2 linked regions of the Homo sapiens genome follow. The protein of the gene in region 2 interacts with the protein of the main gene of each other region in a pairwise test. Each region holds a gene or a part of one and is shown on either strand. Other genes may lie near its edges.

Region 1 (3,653 bases), on a different chromosome or scaffold from region 2:
TAAATAAATAATAATAAAAGACAGTTAACTTCATATCCTGCTTTGGGTCTTTCAGCTCCTCAGGAAGCCTGCACTGCCAGTTACTTTTTTTCCTTCCTATACATTCAGCCTCTCCTTATCCATTGACATTTCTACTTATCCTATCACCATGCTCAGTTCTTCAATCAAAACAAACAAAACAACACTCGAGACTGTCCTCCTCTAGTTCTGCCATTAGGCCCTCCTTCCCTTCATTGCCAGCTTCTTTTTGTAAAAAACAAATGTACAAAAGGTATATTGGCTTTAGTCACAAAAGGAATACATGCTTCTTGTAGAAATCTGGAAAAGAGATTTTTTTTTTTTTAAAAAGAAATGTCTGTATTCTCACCATAAAAGGTAATAAATTTGTTGGTGATACTTACACACACAAACACACCTACACCCTTAGGTCATTCTTTATATTCAACAGTGAGCTTTTTAAACTTAATATTACAACTTTAAAAATGCCTTGTTTCACTAAAAATTTCTTTGAAATCATGATTATGATGATTATTTTTTTTTTTGGAGACAGAGTCTCGCTCTCTCACCCAGGCTGTAGTGCAGTGGCGCGATCTCGGCTCACTGCAACCTCTGCCTCCCAGGTTCAAGTGATTCTCCTGCCTCAGCTTTCTGAGTAGCTGGGATCACAGGCACATGCCACCACGCCTGGCTAATTTTTGTATTTTTAGTAGACGGGATTTCACCATGTTGCCCAGGGTGGTCTTAAACTCCTGAGCTCAGGCAATCTGCCTGCCTCTGCCTCCCTAAGTGCTAGGATTACAGGTGAAATCATGATTCTTAATGGTGGTAAAACATTTCATCATATGAATATACTACAATTTATCCAAACAATCCCCTATTGCCACATATTAAGGGTCTGTCCAGTGTTTTGTTCTTATGAATAACATGTAATGAGCATGATTTGCACAAAAACGTCTGTCTGCATTTCTGATTCCTTTTCCTTAGAATAAACTCCGAGAAGTGGAATTTCTGGATAGAAGGGCATAAACATACTTAATCCTCTAGTCTTACATAGTCATACTGACCTTTAAAACTATTTACTAATTTCTCTGAAAATGCTCACGACATCACGTTTACCAAAACTGTGTATTATTGTTAAGGGAAAGGAAAAACACTTGGTCAATTTCATAGATTAAACAACAGCATCTCTTCATTTTAATTTGCTATTGATTTTAAATATTACTTTTAATTTTCTATATTTTCTATATGTTTAATGGTAATTTGGACTTTGACTTTTGTAAACTTTCTTTCTGTGTCCTTGGCTCAAATCGAAACTTCTTGAAAGGATGCTCTCTCTCCTCACATCTCGCTCTCTGAAACCTGGGCTCTGTCCTCAATCCATCCCTCACAGCACGTCACCAGTTGGTTCCTTGCATGCTAAATCCTGCCAGCTTTTCAGCAGTTATTAGTAGACCTTCTTAGGCTTTCAGTTCCCCACACAAACCATGTCATTTCTGCCTCTGTGTTGTTGCTTACGCTGGTCTCTCGGCACGCAGGCCTCCCCCTCCCGCTTTCTGCCCAATGCTTGCATAATTACTTTCCATTCTTGAAGATTTAGCTGAGACATCATTACCTCTGTCAGCCTTCCCCATCCCCCAGCCTCTCGCCTCTCCTAAGTGCGTTTCCCTCTGTGCTTTCCGAGCACGTTGCACATTCCATGCATTCCTAATCACTGGACCGTATGGACTTCATGTTCATCCCTCCTATCAGACTGCAATGCAAGCTCCTTGTGAGTAGGAACTTTTTCTCCTTCTCCTTTGCATCCACAGTGCCGAACATAAGGTAGGCAGCTGATCAATACTGAATTGCCCTCAACAGCAGCACCTGGGCCTGGTGACCATTCCCTCCCCTTCCCGTGCTGTCTCCTCACTTGTGTCTGGCCGCCCCTCCCAGTTTCCTTCTTTGGCATCTCTTCTTTTGCCCACCCTTAAATTGTCCCCCAAGGATCTATCCTCATCCTTCTTTTCTTCCAAGTCTAATGGATCAAATCCGTATTTATAGCTTTAAGTTTCCCATCAAGTGCTGACACTCAGACCTCTCTCCTGAGCCACAAACCAGATTTTCCAACTGCCTACTGGATATTTCCATTTGGAAGTGCCACTGGCTCCTCAAAATCACCATGTTAAACACAAAGCTCATTTTCTTTTCTCCACAATTGGCTCCTTTTCCTCTCTCCCTCAGCTCCATAAATGACACCATCATCTATGTAGGTGGTGAAGCCAAAAACCCAGTAATGGATTCTCCTCTCTTCTCTGGTCACCACTCCTGTAGTTGTCACTTTCTAAAGGGCCCTCTTTAACATCTCTTGCTAACAACAAGGACAGCAGCCTTCCCAATGGGTCTCTCAGCTCAACGCTATTCATTTTCCATCAATCCTCTATGCTGCCACTAGAGCAAATTCAGTAAAATGCAGATCCCATCCGAGATTCTACCTTCAATGGCTTCCTAAGCTAGCAGCATGATACTACAGGTAGAGTAAGAACCTTGGTAGAAGCTTACCTTGTGTCCTAGAAGCTCCTTTGGGCATGTAGGTTGGACCTGTTCGGAGCTTTCTTTTCCACAGCACTGAAACTAGAGAGTCAGAAAAGAGACTTCAGGACCAGGCGGGAGGAGTAGCAGCTACAAGTCTGGGCACCCTGCTAAGGACTGGGGTGCCGAGGCGGCAAAGCAGCTCCGAGGCCCAGTCACTGCAACCCAGACTGCTATTTCTGGAAGGAGAGTGAAGAATCACATAATCATGCTGGCAAAACAAGAAAATGACTTCGCTAAAGCCATCTGAGTTTATGATGGGAAGTGACTCAAGGCAACCCAAACAAGGCAAGAAGCTAATTGACAGTGTCTGTGTAAATTGCTACTTTTTAGAAAGGGGTTGGGGCTTTAGATTCCTTCTTTCAGACTGGGAGTCATTTAACCTGCTGAGGAGCTCAAGTTTTATGAGCTGCAGAAGGACTCATTAGCTGGGAATAGTCTGGGGAAGAGGGGAGAAGTGGCTGCAGGAAATTCCAGGGTCCAAAAGACCAGATTTGAAGATTGGCCAGCAAACAGGTGTCCTGCTTAGGCTAGCTGGCCCTTTAAGACAAAAGAACCTGTGTGCTGCTTCAGGTCCTGGCGGCAGCTGAGGTGAAACCGTATAAATGTATAAATGGTGGCCACTTTCCAAGACATACTTGTCCTAGACAAGAACTAGGTACCTGAAAACACCTGGCCCAGGAATTCACAGCTACTTCTTCATATCACAGTGTCTAAAAAATCAGAATAACTCTGGCCTGGCCCATCTCCTCTGTAAGCCTTCTGTGATTAACTGCATGTAGCTCTGAGCACTCCACGGACAGCACAGTCCCACTGAATGTTCCAGAAGGGAGTGTAGCCATCTCCTGTGACCCTTCATTCTACAAATGAGGGAGCTGCGTGGGTATCAGGGAGGCCAAGTAACTTGCTCAAGGTCACAAGGCTGTTGAATGGTAGAGCTGCAGCTAGAAATTAGCTTTTCTGACTTACAGGTCACACTTGTTTCTGTTACACCACAATGCTACCCTCTGACAAAGCCTGCTATTTATCTGGGCTCCTTTCTCTGTAACCTTGTTTGTGCTCTTTTGTCTCTTTGGGGCATGTGT
Region 2 (3,653 bases):
CGCTCTTTCACCCAGGCTGGAGTGCAGTGGTGCGTTTGCGACTCACTGCAACCTCCGCCTCCGAGGTTCAAGTGATTCTCCTGCCTTAGCCTCCTGACTAGCTGAGACTACAGGCGTGCGCCACCATGCCGGCTAATTTTTGTATTTTTAGTAGAGACGGGGTTTTGCCAGGCTTGTCTGGAACTCCTGACCTCAGGTGATCCACCCGCTTCGGCCTCCCAAAGTGTTGGGATTACAGGCATGGGCCACCGTGCCCAGCCATTTTTGCTTTATTGCTGTGTTTGCTTTTATCACGGCACTTCGTTTATTTATATATCTCCACATCAGTCTCCTTTATTAACTGTGGCCTCCCTGAGGGTGAGGACCGGGTCCCACTCAGCGTGGAATCTTCTGGGTGCATACAGAATGCGTTCAGCACAGGCTTGGTGGGCAAATGTTTAATCTCTCTCCACCCAAACGGGCACGTAGGGGTTGCAGTTCCCACAATGTACAGCAGGTGGCGAAATAACTACAAGGGCTTGGACCTACTTTGGGCCAGAAAGGAACCCCAGCCAGAGACAGAGGGGTGGGGTGGGGGGTCAGGTGGGATTCTCCAGGCCAATCAGGGAACAGAGGAGTGGCTGGATCCCGCTGGAGAAGCTGGGGGAGAAGGAAGGAAAGAAGGAAAAAGTCTTGTGTTGAGCACCTGCTGCATACCAAGGCTGTTGTCTAGGTTATTGTAATTAATCCCAGCAAATAATTATTAAAGACCTACCACAGGCTCATGGCTGGGCACTATCAGGAATTTGGAATGAAAATAATGGTGGGGTGTGGTGGCTCACGCCTGTAATTTCAGCACTTGTGGGAGGCTGAGGCAGGAGGATTACATGAAGTCAAGAGTTCAAGACCAGCCTGGCCAACATAGTGAAACCCTGTCTCTACTAAAAATACAAAAATTAGCCGGGTGTGGTGGTACACGTCTGTAATCCCAGCTATTTGGGAGGCTGAGGCATGAGAATTGCTTGAACCCAAGAGGCGGAGGTTGCAGTGAGCCGAGATTGTGCCACTGCACTCCAGCCTGGGCGACAGAGCAAGACTGTGTCTCAAAAAAAAAAAAAAAGTAAATAAAAATAAAAAAGTAAAAATAATGAAAGAAGGCCAGGTGCAGTGGATCACACCTATAATCCCAGCACTTTGGGAGCCAAAGCAGGAGGTATGCTTGAGTCCAGGAGCTGGAGACCAGCCTGGGCAACACAGCAAGACCACGTCTCTACAAAATACTTAAAATTAGCCAGGGGTGGTGGTGTGCGCCTGTGGTCCTAGCTACTTAGGAGGTTGAGGGGGGAGAATCAGGAGTTTGAGGCTGCAGTGAGCTATGATCACCCCACTACGCTCCAGCATGGGCAACAGAGTGAGACCCTATCTCAAGAAAATAAATAAATAAAAATAATGAAAGAAGAATAAAAGCTAACATGAATTGCACATTTCTAAATGCCAAGCATCAGGCTGGATCCTTTATTCGCAGGATCTTATTAATACCCTCACATCCATCCTATGAGATAATGTTTCTTTTCTTTCTTTTTTTTTTTTTTTGAGACAGAGTCTCACTCTGCCACCCAGGCTGGAGTACGGTGGCACCATCTCAGCTCACTGTAACCTCTGCCTCCCGGGTTCCAGTGATTCTTTTCCCTCAACCTCCTGAGTAGCTGGGATTACAGGCATGCACCACCACATCCGGCTAATTTTTGTATTTTTAGTAGAGATGGGGGTTTCACCATGTTGGCCAGGCTGGTCTCGAACTCTTGGCCTCAAGTGATTTGCCCGCCTCCGCCTCCCAAAATGCTGGGATTACAGGCGTAAGCCACTGTGCCTGGCCCTATGAGATAATGTTTCTATCATCCCCATTTAGACGAAGAAACAGGGGCCCAGAGATATTTAACGATTTCTCCAGAGTCACAAAAATGGCAGAGCAGCGTAAGAACCCAGAGCTGTGACTTGACGTGGCTGCTACCTGCCAGGCACTGTCCTGCTGTCTCTATACTCCTGTTTCTCAAACTTCATAGTACATGTGAATCACCCAAGGACCTTGTGAATGTGCAGTTTTTAGCTCAGTAAGTCTGGAGAGAGTTCTGAAATTCTGCATTTTTTTTTTTGAGACAGAGTCTGGCCCAGGCTGGAGTGCAGTGGCACAGTGTCAGCTCACTGCAACTGCCGCCTCTCGGATTCAAGTGATTCTTCTCCCTCAGCCTCCCGAGTAGCTGGGATTACAGGCGCCCACCACCACGCCCAGCTAATTTTCTATTTTTAGTAGAGATGGGGTTTCACCATGTTGGTCAGTCTGGTCTCGAACTCCTAACCTCAAATGATCCACCCCCCTCATCCTCCCAAAGTGCTGAGATTACAAGCGTGAGCCACCGTGCCCAGCCTGCATTTCTAACAAGCTCCTAGGTGATGCTGATGTTGCCTGTCTGGGTCAGCTGGCTTTGAGTAACAAGGATTTACACCAGTGGTTCTCAAACTTGAGGGTGCAACCTAATTACGTGGAGGGCTTATTAAAACACAGGGCGCTGGGCCCTACCCCTGGAGCTTCTGATTCAGTAGACCTGGCATGGGGCCCGAGAATAAGCATTTCTAATAATTCCCAGGGATTGTTGCTGGTCTGAGGACCACACTTTGAAAACATCTGCTCACTTAAGCAACTCCCCAGCCCTGCCAGGTGTAGGTGAGGAAAAATGGGAACACAGAGAGGGGCAGGATGTAAGTGGCCCAAGGCTGCAGGGTGTGTTTCTGGGGTCCCTGTCATCCTAAACTTAGTTCTCTCTCCTCTCCCCTGTCTCCCAGAGCTATGCAGAGCCAGGCACGGGTTGCAGAGGGGCAGGGGGCCAGGTTGGATGCAGGAGGCACTACCCACCTGTTGGCATTCTCCAGGGTCTCCACCTTCTTCCACAGTTCATTGTTCTCAGATGTAAATGTCTCCACCCTGTAGGGGCCAAGCAGGCACAGGCTCAGGGGCAGCCCCCAGACTCACAACAGCTCCTCGGCCCAGCCCACCACCATCACACTCCCTGTGCCCCCTGCCTCTGCTGCCCCCTGAGGGAGGGCCTAGGGGAGGGCAGGTCAGGCAAGGGAGTGGATTGCCCACCCCTCCCAAGCCCCTTACTTCTTTTCTAGACACTCCACATACTCCTTCTTCTTACGACGGCTCTCCTGGGCTGAGATCTAGAGGGGGAGGCCCGAAAACAAGGGTTAGCACTGCCACATATTCACTTCCTGGGCCCCCCAATTTCAGAGCTGGTATGCCAGGGGAGCCCACCCACCAAGGAAGCCCTCTGAAGCCCCAGGGTGGCAGGCTTTACCTTGTTCTTGATTTTCCTCCGGACTCTCTTCAAGGCCTTCTCCTCGGCTTTGGTGAGGGGGAGTTTTGTGGGGATGGGGTAGCCCTCAGCAATCAGGGTCCGCTTCTCCTCCTCTGTCAGGAGCAGTGGCCCTGATGTCCCCTGTAATTTCTGTAGGAAGTATGATGTGGTAGTTAGGAGCCAGGCAGCCCTGGGTTCAAATTCAAGCTCTGCCATGTGCTATCTATATGACCTGGGCAAGGCACACAATGCTCTATGCCTCAGTTTCCTCATCTGGAAAGGGAGTGGATCTGGGTGAAATTCAGTAACATGTGTCAG

What was found. Proteins that work in one complex are often made in the same cells at the same time.
Region 1: the proteins of CREB3L1 (region 2) and TSPAN2 interact in binary tests that used the Homo sapiens proteins (3 or more experiments, as listed by UniProt).

Annotation. Positions count from the first base shown.
Region 1 is NC_000001.11:115,054,999-115,058,651, forward strand, and holds part of TSPAN2 (tetraspanin-2), read right to left. Parts: intron 2,611-3,653; coding exon 2,539-2,610; intron 1-2,538. UniProt on the Homo sapiens protein: May play a role in signalling in oligodendrocytes in the early stages of their terminal differentiation into myelin-forming glia and may also function in stabilizing the mature sheath.
Region 2 is NC_000011.10:46,312,157-46,315,809, reverse strand, and holds part of CREB3L1 (cyclic AMP-responsive element-binding protein 3-like protein 1), read right to left. Parts: intron 3,486-3,653; coding exon 3,336-3,485; intron 3,199-3,335; coding exon 3,140-3,198; intron 2,960-3,139; coding exon 2,891-2,959; intron 640-2,890; exon of another isoform or gene 1-639.